3 linked regions of the Homo sapiens genome follow. The protein of the gene in region 2 interacts with the protein of the main gene of each other region in a pairwise test. Each region holds a gene or a part of one and is shown on either strand. Other genes may lie near its edges. The genes, in order: CNMD, HSH2D and RBP7.

Region 1 (3,649 bases), on a different chromosome or scaffold from region 2:
GGGAAGGTTTGTGAACCACTGATAAAAAGAAACTTGGGTCCAAAGGTTATTGCCATCACTTTAAAAGCTTTGTTACCTTGAACACCTTTCTCTTTCATATGGTAGTCTTCAACCCTGGCATCAACCCTTTAAATTATAAACACCTGGGGAGCTTTTAAGGCTCCCAATACCTGGGCCCCAAAGCAAACCAATCAAATGGGAATCTCTGGGAAGGGACCCAGGCGTCTGTGTTCTTAAACCCTCTACAGTGAATTCAGGTGCAGTTAAGAGCCAAGCCTCAGCAGTGAGCCTCGGAGCTCCTCTTCTGTAAAGTGGGGATAATGCCCCTGTCTCTCTGAGTGAGCAGTAGTGCTGGGAGAAATAGGTGAAATGAGTTACATATGTATACATGATTAATTAAGCCACAAGACAAATAATAAAGAGCTTGAGGAAGAATGAGCCTTTTCTTCTGTGTTTTGCAGTCCTTTACTCACCAGCTTCTGTAGGGCTCCTGGCTCTGTGACTACATAAGGTAGAGCTATCCATTAATCCCCTCCAGCATGACTTACATTTAATTTTCTTCTTCATTGTAAAGGGCTGAATCTTGAGCCAGGATCCCTAGATTTTAAGTGTTTTCTACCCCCATTCTTTATCACTGGCCCTGGTACCATTTCTATATCATTCCAACACTTGCCTCAACTCAACAGAGGACTGATAAGGTTCAGATTTGTGCTAGTATCTCCATTATTATACCATAAAAATTGTAGGCCTTTATTTTAGATTCACTAGTCCTGAAACTAACAGCAGCAGGAGGAGAGTAAACATTCTTGGGACAGAGCATCCTGTTACCCCTCATGTCCTCTGTGGGTAGAATCGGGGCTGTGCTTTCAGCCAAGACTGGAGCTTTGTGGCTGATGTTTCCCTTGAGGCAGTCCCTAGGCAGACCAAGAGAAGATATTGTTTATATCTCTCAGGAGACAAAAAAAAAACATCTAAGTCCTTGGGTAAGGTATAGAAGGAAAGTTCAGAACCAGGTGCTGTAGAAAGTTTTACTGTTTACTCTGGGCTCAGTAACCTAGGAAAATTCTGAATTCACAGAATTAATTAATTTGACCAACATCTTTTGAATAGCTTTGTGGGGTCACCAAAAAAGAAAACAGAAAAGATTCAAATACTGATCTCAAGAAGCTTATAACTAAGTAGGCTGTGTATAGCTGAGTAAGCATCCCAGTTGAGGAATGAAGACAGGAGGACTTATGGGAAAGCAGAGGAAAGACAGCTGCTTAGGCTGAGATGTTCAGAGAAGGCTGCATGGAGAAGGTGGCATTTCATCTGAGCTTGTGAATATAGATGGAATAACTAACATATTCTGTCCCAGCTCAAATATCATCCCCTCATTGAGTCACCTCCCCTGACTATGCTGTCTGTCTAAATTACCACCTCATCATTCCTGTCTTATTTTTCTTCTTAACAGTTATTACCTGACTTTATCTCTATTCTTGTTTGTTTGTTTGTTTTTATTTTTTTGAGACAGCCTCGTTCTGTCACCCAAGCTGGAGTGCAGTGGCGATCTTGGCTGTCTGCAACCTCCACCTCCCGGGTTCAAGCGATTCTCCGGCCTCAGCCTCCCAAGTAGCTGGGATTACAGGAGCCCGCTACCACACCCGGCTAATTTTTGTATTTTTAGTAGAGACAAGGTTTCACCATGGTGGCCAGGCTGGTCTCAAACTCCCGACCTCAGGTGATCTGCCCGCGTCGGCCTCCCAAAGTTCTGGTGGCATAAGCCACCATGTCCGGCTGTTTTTGTTTGTTTTTTGTTTTTGTTTTGAGACGGAGTCTTGCTCTGTTGCCCAGGCTGTGGAGTGCAGTGGCGCAATCTTGGCTCACTGCAAGCTCCGCCTCCCCGGTTCACCCTATTCTCCTGCCTCAGCCTCCCAAGTAGCTGGGACTACAGGCGCCCGCCACCACGCCTGGCTAATTTTTTTTTTTTTTTTTTTTTTTTGTATTTTTAGTAGAGATCGGGTTTCACCGTGTTAGCCAGGATGGTCTTGATCTCCTGACCTCGTGATCTGCCTGCCTTGGCCTCCCAAAGTGCTGGGATTACAGGCGTGAGCCACCGCGCCAGGCCGCCCGGCTGTTTTTTATTATTGGTAAACAATGCTAAAAGGTAAGTTCCATGAGGGCAGTTCCATCTCTTTTGTTCATCCCTATCCCTAGCACCCGGAACAGCATCTGGAACACAGTAGACACTCAATAAATCGAATAAATGAACAAATGGATAGATAGATGGATACACTTTTGTTTCATAGGGCATCACAGGAATTCGTTTTGCTGGAGGAGAGAAGTGCTACATTAAAGCGCAAGTGAAGGCTCGTATTCCTGAGGTGGGCGCCGTGACCAAACAGAGCATCTCCTCCAAACTGGTGGGTACCAACATGCCTGAGACAGTGAGACTGCTTGGCAAACATTGTTTGAAGGCACAACCCTTTTGGTTTTTATTTTTTGTTTTTATTTTTATTTTTATTGAGACAGAGTCTCACTCTGGAGTGCAGTGGCGCTTTTGGCTCACTGCATCCGATTCTCCTGTCTCAGCTTCCTGAGCAGCTGGGACTACAGGGACACCACCACATCCAACTAACTTGTTGTATTTTTAATAGATACAGGGTTTCACCATGTTGGCCAGGCTCTTCTTGAACTCCTGGCCTCAAGTGACCTGCCTGCCTCGGCCTCCTAAAGTGCCAGGATTATAGGAGTGAGCCACCGCGCCCAGCCTAAAGGCACAACACTTTTGGTTTCTAGTACCTGGATAGGTTCATGACTAGATGGTAAATTCGATTTCTTCTCTGCCAAAGGAATTCAAACTGTTTTTGTCCTACTGGGGTCAAGGGATTCTTCTCACATGATATAGTATATTTAAACGTTTTGGGAAGCCACATTTTAAAGTGCATAAAGGGGCTGGGTGCTCATATGGCCTTATTTGCCTGAGGTTAGGGAACTATCTGATCTGTGGTTAAGACTCCACAATAGAGGCAGGCATGGTGGCTCATGCTGGTAATCCCAGCACTTTGGGAGGCCGAGGTGGGCAGTTCATTTAAGCCCAGGAATTCCAGACAAGCCTGGACAACACGGCAAAACCCTGTCTCTACTAAAAATACAAAAAATTAGCTGGCCATGGTAGTGCGTACCTATAGTCCCAGCTACTCAGGAGGCAGAGGTGGGAGGATCACTTGAGCCCAGGAGATTGAGGCTGCAGGGAGCTGAGATTGCACCAGTGCACTCCAGGCTGGGCAACAGAATGAGACTCTATCTCAAAAAATAAAAAAACCCGAAAGAGACTCCACAATAAAGACAAAGGACTCCACAAGACAGGGTCTTCATTAAAGGGACCCACAATAGCGGATCACACAGCCTCTGCTGGAAAGCAGCCACAGGGCACTCATCCCCCACCCCAACACCAGCCAGCATCACTGAGGGTGGTTCTAATTGTTTTGCCCTACATTAAGCTGAGATAGCTCCTCCTACAACTTCTTCCCATTGGTTCAGGTTCAGCCCATTGAAGCTACACAACATATATCTAATTCCTTTTCTATGTGTCAAACCTGTGAGTTTTTAAAACATGTTTCTTTCATTTATTATTAATAACTTGCCTTTGAGCTTGATTTTTTTAAAA
Region 2 (3,749 bases):
ACTCACCATAAATTCTGTCCTTAAACTGGAGCTCACTCCCTCCACCCATTGGCCCCATCTAATGTTTCAATATCTCAAAAGATCTTTTTACTGGGCTGTCTCTATGAGGAGGCGGGGTCTGTTGACCAATGGCAGTCAATATTGACTTTCTCCAACCAGATGTCAAGCATACCCTCTGGGGTATGGCCTGAGGGAATTCTGGGGCAACCAAAATTAAATAACTGTATTAAGAAATGTTTAATAAAGCAGGGTGACAAAATGATTAAGAGCCTGGAATTGGAGGCTGGGTGCAGTAGCTCACACCTGTAATCCCAGCACTGTCAGAGCCTGAGGCAGGCGGATTGCCTGAGGCTGGGAGTTTGAGACCAGCCTGGCCAACATGGTGAAACCCCATCTCTAATAAAAAGACAATCATTATCTGGGCAAGGTGGCTCACCCCTGTAATCCCAGCTACTCAGGAGGCTGAGGCAGGAGAATTGCGTGAATCTGGGAGGCGGAGGTTGCAGTGAGCTGAGATCGAGCCACTGCACTCCAGCCTGGGCAACAGAGCAAGACTCCATCTCAAAATAAATAAATATGAAATAAAAATACAAAACTTACAGTGGCATGTGCCTGTAGTCTCAGCTACTCAGGAGGCTGAGGCAGGAGAATCATCTGAACTCGGGAGGCAGAGTTTGCAGTGAGCCAAGATCGCACCACTGCACTCCAGCCTGAGCAACAGAGCGAAACTCTGTCTCACAAAAAAAAAAAAAAAAACCCCAAAAAAAAAACCCATCACCACCAACAACAAAAAAAGAGCCTGGGACAGGTGCGGTGGCTCATGCCTGTAATCTCAGCACTTTGGGAGGCTGAGGCAGGCAGATCACGAGGTCAGGAGATTGAGACCATCCTGGCTAACATGGTGAAACCCCGTCTCTACTAAAAATACGAAAAATTAGCTGGGTGTGGTGGCGGGCGCCTGTAGTCTCAGCTACTTGGGAGGCTGAGGCAGGAGAATGGCGTGAACTCGGGAGGCAGAGCTTGCAGTGAGCTGAGATCGAGCCACTGCACTCCAGCCTGGGCGACAGAGCAAGACTCCGTCTCAAAAAAAAAAAAAAAAAAAAAAAAGAGCCTAGAATTCGACCCAGATGGCCTGGGTTCAAACCCTAGCTCGCCCACTTAGCCGCTGTGTGACCTCAGATAAGTCACTTAATGGCTCTCTGTCCCTGTATTTCTGTCTTTAATTTGGGAATAATGATATTTACCTAGGAAAGTTTAGCTAGCACTGTGTATATATAGAGATATATATACAATATTCATGAATCCAGTTGTGACCTATCATGGGGTAATGTTTACAGGCTTATTCTTTTTTTTTACTTGGAAGAGCTCCTATTTATCCTTCAAAACCCAGTAAAAATGTCCCCTCCTCCAGGCAGCTTTCCTGCATCTCCCCCCAGACAACACCCTGGCACCCCTCTCTGTCCCCAACGTTCCCCCCTGTTCCTCTCTCTGGTCCAGCCATGACTCCATGGAGCTAGAGTGTCTTTATCTTGCTCTGTCTCCACCAGCCTGAGGGCCTCCTAGGGATCAGGGCTTAGGGCTAGGTTCCTGTGTTGTTGTTTTTTTCTGTGTCCTGGTGCTGGCCTGGCACAGAGGAGGGTGCAAGGGTCTTTGCTGGTGAACAGCTATCTAGTGATGAAAGACCGCATGCTCAAATTCAAGCTCCTGACCCTGGCCTGGGAGCCTCCTCTACTTCCCCGCTACCCACATTCTAGACCTAAAGACATCCTTGCTCTCTCTCTCTTGCCTCTCCATACCTTTGCTCATGCTGTTGTCTTGCCAAGACCCCCTTTTCCCTAACTCCAGCTCCATTTTCCATTTGTGGTCACCACAAATACCCCCTCCTCCACGAAGCTCTCCCCCATGCCCCTAGAAAATCCCTCCTGCCACCCCAGGCCCCACTAGCCCTGTCCCTCCTTCTGGCCTAGCCCAGCCCCCACGTTCTGTCTCCTCGAGGGCTGAGGCTCTTGGGTCACATACCTGGGAGACCCTTGGATGGCCGAGGCCCTCGCTGTAGCTGTGCCAGTGCCTGCAGGAGCCTGGGTTTCGATTCAAGGTCTGCACGTCAATGGGGCGGGGCTGGCTGCCCCGAGGCAGTTCCTGTTTCCTCAAGCAGGTGAGCCCTGGGGGCGGAACAAGGACAGCTCAAGTCACCCTGTCTGCAGTCCAACAAAGCATCTGGTGCCACAGGTGCAGAGACAGCTTGCTCCTGTCTTGCCCCCAGCAAGTTGTTATTGAGCACCTACTGTGTGCCTGCTGTTTGGAGGACACAGGGGTGACACGGAGACAGGTGCAGGCCCCCTGACTCCTGGCATCTATAATCTATCAAGCAGTGAAGAGGAGTGAGACATCATTACAAAGGGAGAACGGGGAACGGGTGCGGTGGCTCACACCTGCAATCCCAGCACTTTGACAGGCTGAGGCAGGCGGATCACTTGAGGTCAGGAGTTTGAGACCAGCCTGGCAAACATGGCAAAACCCCGTCTCTATTAAAATACGAAAATCAGCCGGGTGTGGCGGCGCACGCCTGTAATCCCAGCTACTCAGGAGGCTGAGGCACAAGAATTGCTTGAACCCGGGAGGCGGAGGTTGCAGTGAGCAGAGATCGCACCATTGCACTCCAGCCTGGGCAACGGAGTGAGACTCCTTCTCAAAACAAAAACAAAAGCAACAAAGGGGGAACAGAAACTGGGCGCGGTGGCTCACGCCTGTAATCCCAGCACTTTGGGAGGCCGAGGCGGGTGGATCATTTGAGGCCAGGAGTTTGAGACCAGGCTGGCCAACATGGTAAAACCCTGTCTCTACTAAAAATACAAAAATTAGGCGTGGTGGCGGGTGCCTGTAATCCCAGCTACTCAGGAGGCTGATGCAAGAGAATCGCTTGGACCAGGGACGCAGAGGCTGCAGTGAGCCGAGATCACGCCACTGCACTTTAGCCTGGATGACAGAGGGAAATTCTGTCCCCCGCAAAACAAACAAACAAAAAAACACCAGCTGGGTGCGGTGGCTCATGCCTGTAATCCCAGCACTTTGGGAGGCCAAGGTGGGCAGATCATTTGAGGTCAGGAGTTCGCGACCAGCCTGACCAACATGGAGAAATCCCGTCTCTACTAAAACTGCAAAATTAGCCCGGCGTGGTGACACATGCCTGTAATCCCAGCTATTTGGGAGGCTGAGGCAGGAGAATCGCTTGAACCCGGGAGGTGGAGGTTGCGGTTTGCTGAGATCTCACCACTGCACTCCAGCCTGGGCAGCGAGAGTGTAACTCCGTCTCAAACAAAACAAAACCAACGAAAACCAAACAAAACAAAACAAAAAAACAAAAAACCCCAAACAAACAAAAAAATCCAAAGGGGAAACAGGAAGTGGGAACAGCAGTTGCACAAACCCACAGAGGTGACCTAACTGACGTGAAGGAAGGGGCATTTGAGGGTGAGAAGGAATCATCTTGATTTGGGGAGTGCGTAGTGCAGAAAGAGTATATTTTTTTGTAGAGATGGGGTCTTGCTATATTGCCCAGGCTGGGGGAGGGAAGAGCAGGCACAAAGGCCTTGAAACTGAATTGAGCCTGGACAGGCTGGGGTCTCATGGCACGCATAGGTCCACACCAGGACTTCCTCCATTATAAAATATTTTAAAATATTTTTATTAATTGACTAACCTATTTTAGAGACAGAGTTTCACTCTGTCACTCAGGCTGGAGTGCAGTG
Region 3 (3,649 bases), on a different chromosome or scaffold from region 2:
AGCCCTCCCAGCACCTCAATGTATTCACCACACACATGAATGTTCACCGTTCAACATGGAAGCTCTCTAAACCCCGTGGTTTAGTTTTTAGTGGATGTTTCAGCACATAGGCATGACTGATTAAGTCAATGGCTATTTGTGATTAGTTCAATCTCCAGCCCCTCTTCCCTCAGGGATGAGGCTGAAAGTTCCAACCCTCTAATCATGCCTTCGATTTTCTGGTGACCATCCCCCATCCTGAAGCTATCTAAGGACCCTCAGTAGACAGTCATGTCGTTAACACACAAAAGATCTTTTTTTTTATTTGGAGACAAGGCCTTACTCCTTTTTTATTTGGAGACAGGGTCTTACTCCTTCGCCCAGGCTGGAATGCAGTGGTGCAGTCATGGCTCACCTTAGCCTCAACTTCCTGGGCCTAAGTAATCCTCCCACCTCAGCCACCCAAGTAGCTGGGACTACAGGCACCCATCACCATGCCCAGCTAATTTTTTTTAATTTTTTGCGACGGAGTCTTGCTCTTGTTGCCCGGGCTGGAGTGCAATGGCGCGATCTCGGCTCACTGCAACCTCCACCTCCTGGGTTCAAGTGATTATCCTGCCTCAGCCTCCTGAGTAGCTGGGACTACAGGTGCCCGCCACCACACCCGGCTAATTTTTGTATTTTTTAGTAGAGACAGCATTTCACCATGTTAGCCAGGCTAGTTTCCAACTCCTAACGTCAGATGATCCACCTGCCCCGACCTTCCAAAATTCTGGGATTACAGGTATGAGCCACTGCCCCCAGCCAATTTTTTGTAGAGACAGAGTCACACTATGCTGCCCAGGCTGGTATTAAACTCCTGGACTCCAGTGATCCTCTTGCCGTGTCCTCCCAAAGTGCTGGGATTACGGAAGTGAACCACCACACCCAGCAACCAAATATTTTTTAATATATCATGGTGGCTGGGCGCGGTGGCTCATGCCTGTAATCCCAGCACTTTGGGAGGCTGAGGGGGGTGGATCACCTGAGGTCAGGAATTTGAGACCAGCCTGACCAGCATGGTGAAACCCTGTCTGTACTAAAAATATAAAAATTAGCTGGGCATGGTAGCGGGCGCCTGTAATCCCAGCTACTTGGGAGGCTGAGGCAGGAGAATCACTTGAACCCAGGAGGAGGAGGTTACAGTGAGCTGAGATCAAGCTACTGCACTCCAGGATGGGCGACAGAGTGAGACTCTGTCTGAAAAAAAAAAAAAAAATCATGGTAAGTAAGAAGCATTCCATGAGTATCCTTAGAACAAAAGTACTTCTGTGCCCTGCATGGGCAGATTTCCAGGGTATGCTAGAGAAGGATGTACACATTTGGTATTTCTCTTTTTTTTTTTTTTTTTTTTGAGACAGTTTCACTCTTGTCATCCAGGCTGGAGTGCCGTGGCGCGATCTTGGCTCTTGGCTCACTGCAACCTCCTCCTCCCAGGTTCAAGTGATTCTCCTGCCTCAGCCTCCCGAGTAGCTGGGATTACAAGTGCCTGCCACCACACCAGGCTAATTTTTGTATTTTTAATAGAGACGGGGTTTCGCCATGCTGGCCAGGCTGGTCTCGAACTCCTGACCTCAGGTGATCCACCTGCCTCGGCCTCTCAAAAGTGCTGGGATTACAGGTGTGAGCCACCATGCCCAGCCTTCCTTTTCTTTTTTTTTTTTTTTAAAGACAGGCTAGTCCTACGTTCCCCAGGCTTGACTCAAACTCCTGGGCTCAAGCAATCTTCCCGCTTTGGCCTATCCAGTAACTGGAACTACAGGCAAGTACCACCACACCCAGCTGTTGTGCATAATTTGAACATTACCTCTTACAAACCAACTAATCTAAATCCTCAAACATATGTATATATTCTTTGAAATTCCATATTACGTATTTGCGAAGGCAAGTTTCTTACTTTGTTTTTTTTTTTGGAGACAGAGTCTTGCTGTATCCCCCAGGCTGGAGTGCAGTGGCATGATCTTGGCTCACTGCAACCTCTGCCTCCCGGGTTCAAGCGATTCTCATGCCTCAGCCTCCTGAGTAGCTGGGATTACAGGTGCCTGCCACAGCCCGGCTAATTTTTTTTTTTTTTTTTTTTTTGAGATGGAGTTTCACTCTTGTTGCCCAGGCTGGAGTGCAATGGTGCAATCTCGGCTCACCGTAACCTCCTCCTCCCAGGTTCAAGTGATTCTCCTGCCTCAGCCTCCTGAGTAGCTGGCATTAGAGGCATGCGCCACCACTCTCAGCTGATTTTTTTTTTAAATATTTTTTAGTAGAGACGGGAGTTTCTCCATGTTGGTCAGGCTGGTCTCAAACTCCCGACCTCAAGTGATCCACCCACCTTGGCCTCCCAAAGTGCTGGGATTACAGGCATGAGCCACTGCGCCCGGCTCCGCCCAGCTAATTTTTGTATTTATAGTAGAGATGGGGTTTCATCATGTTGGCCAGGCTGGTCTCGAACTCCTGACCTCAGGTGATCCGCCTGCCTCAGCTTCCCAAAGTGCTGGGATTACAGGCGTGAACCCGTAATCCCATGCCTGACCTCTTACTTTTTTATCGTCAGAAGAGTGTGAGATTTGTCCATCTAGAATCAAAATATCTTCAAGGCCTTGGTATTCAAAGACTACCCAGACCCAACTTTAAGGACAGTGCTCTAGTTTTGTTCTCATGGGTCTCACCTAGATTTCACACATACAGTGAGGCAAAAAAGCACAGAGCTGAGAGCACACATTCTTGTCAGACCTGTATTTGAATCTTCACCCTACAGTGTGAAAATACGTAATTCACAATCAAAGCTGATGAAACTTTAAATTATTTTGAGTCTTAAAGGAATGTGATTGTGGGACCTGAGTCATGTGAAAGGCCGCTGTAACCTAGACAGCTATAACCTTAATTTCTCTGGTTATAGATTAGCCTTTTTCTTTACCTACACTGTTTTGTAAAAAACTAAAGGGCACCAGAGAAGACTTCCCTCTACTGTTGATCTTAATTACAGACTCACTTCCCTGTTTCTTCTCTCTTTTTTTTTCCCAAAGCAGGTGAACCTCTTCCTTCTCTAATACAAAGACAGATGACTATCACGTTGTCTAAGATGGAATGTTAAATATACTCTTAAGATGACAGCAAGAATGAGGGGGAAGAAAAATAAAATAAAGAATGTTAAATATATTCTTTAAACTGGAAAGAAAAAGGAAAAAACTGAGTGGTAACTAATCAAATTCCTGTAACTCATAAAACAGCTTTGTATAGAAAATGTTGTAATCCTGCGAAATTTCTTTGTTTTCTGTCTGTCGGGTGGCTCACGCTTGTAATCCCAGCACTTTGGGAGGCCAAGGCGGGCAGATCACCTGAGGTCAGGAATTCGAGACCAGCCTGGCCAACATGGCAAAACCATGTCTCTACTAAAAATGCAAAAATTAGCTGGGCATGGCCGGGCATGCTGGCTTACACCTATAATCCCAGCACTTTGGGAGGCCGAGGTGGGCGGATCACCTGAGGTCGGGAGTTCAAGCCCAGCCTGACCAACATGGAGAAACCCCGTCTCTACTGAAAATACAAAATTAGCCAGGCGTGGTGGTGCATGCCTGTAATTCCAGCTACTTGGGAAGGCTGAGGCAGGAAAATCGTTGAACCCGGGAGGTGGAGGTTG

Evidence for each region.
Region 1: the proteins of HSH2D (region 2) and CNMD interact in a two-hybrid assay, tested with the Homo sapiens proteins (one large-scale study listed by BioGRID and IntAct).
Region 3: the proteins of HSH2D (region 2) and RBP7 interact in a two-hybrid assay, tested with the Homo sapiens proteins (one large-scale study listed by BioGRID and IntAct).

The regions. Positions count from the first base shown.
Region 1 is NC_000013.11:52,722,750-52,726,398, reverse strand, and holds part of CNMD (leukocyte cell-derived chemotaxin 1 isoform 1 precursor), read left to right. Parts: intron 1-2,288; coding exon 2,289-2,402; intron 2,403-3,649. UniProt on the Homo sapiens protein: Bifunctional growth regulator that stimulates the growth of cultured chondrocytes in the presence of basic fibroblast growth factor (FGF) but inhibits the growth of cultured vascular endothelial cells.
Region 2 is NC_000019.10:16,142,045-16,145,793, reverse strand, and holds the start of HSH2D (hematopoietic SH2 domain-containing protein), read right to left. Parts: upstream 2,110-3,749; 5' UTR 2,020-2,109; intron 1-2,019. UniProt on the Homo sapiens protein: May be a modulator of the apoptotic response through its ability to affect mitochondrial stability. Adapter protein involved in tyrosine kinase and CD28 signaling. Seems to affect CD28-mediated activation of the RE/AP element of the interleukin-2 promoter.
Region 3 is NC_000001.11:10,010,663-10,014,311, reverse strand, and holds part of RBP7 (retinoid-binding protein 7), read right to left. Parts: intron 1-3,649. UniProt on the Homo sapiens protein: Intracellular transport of retinol.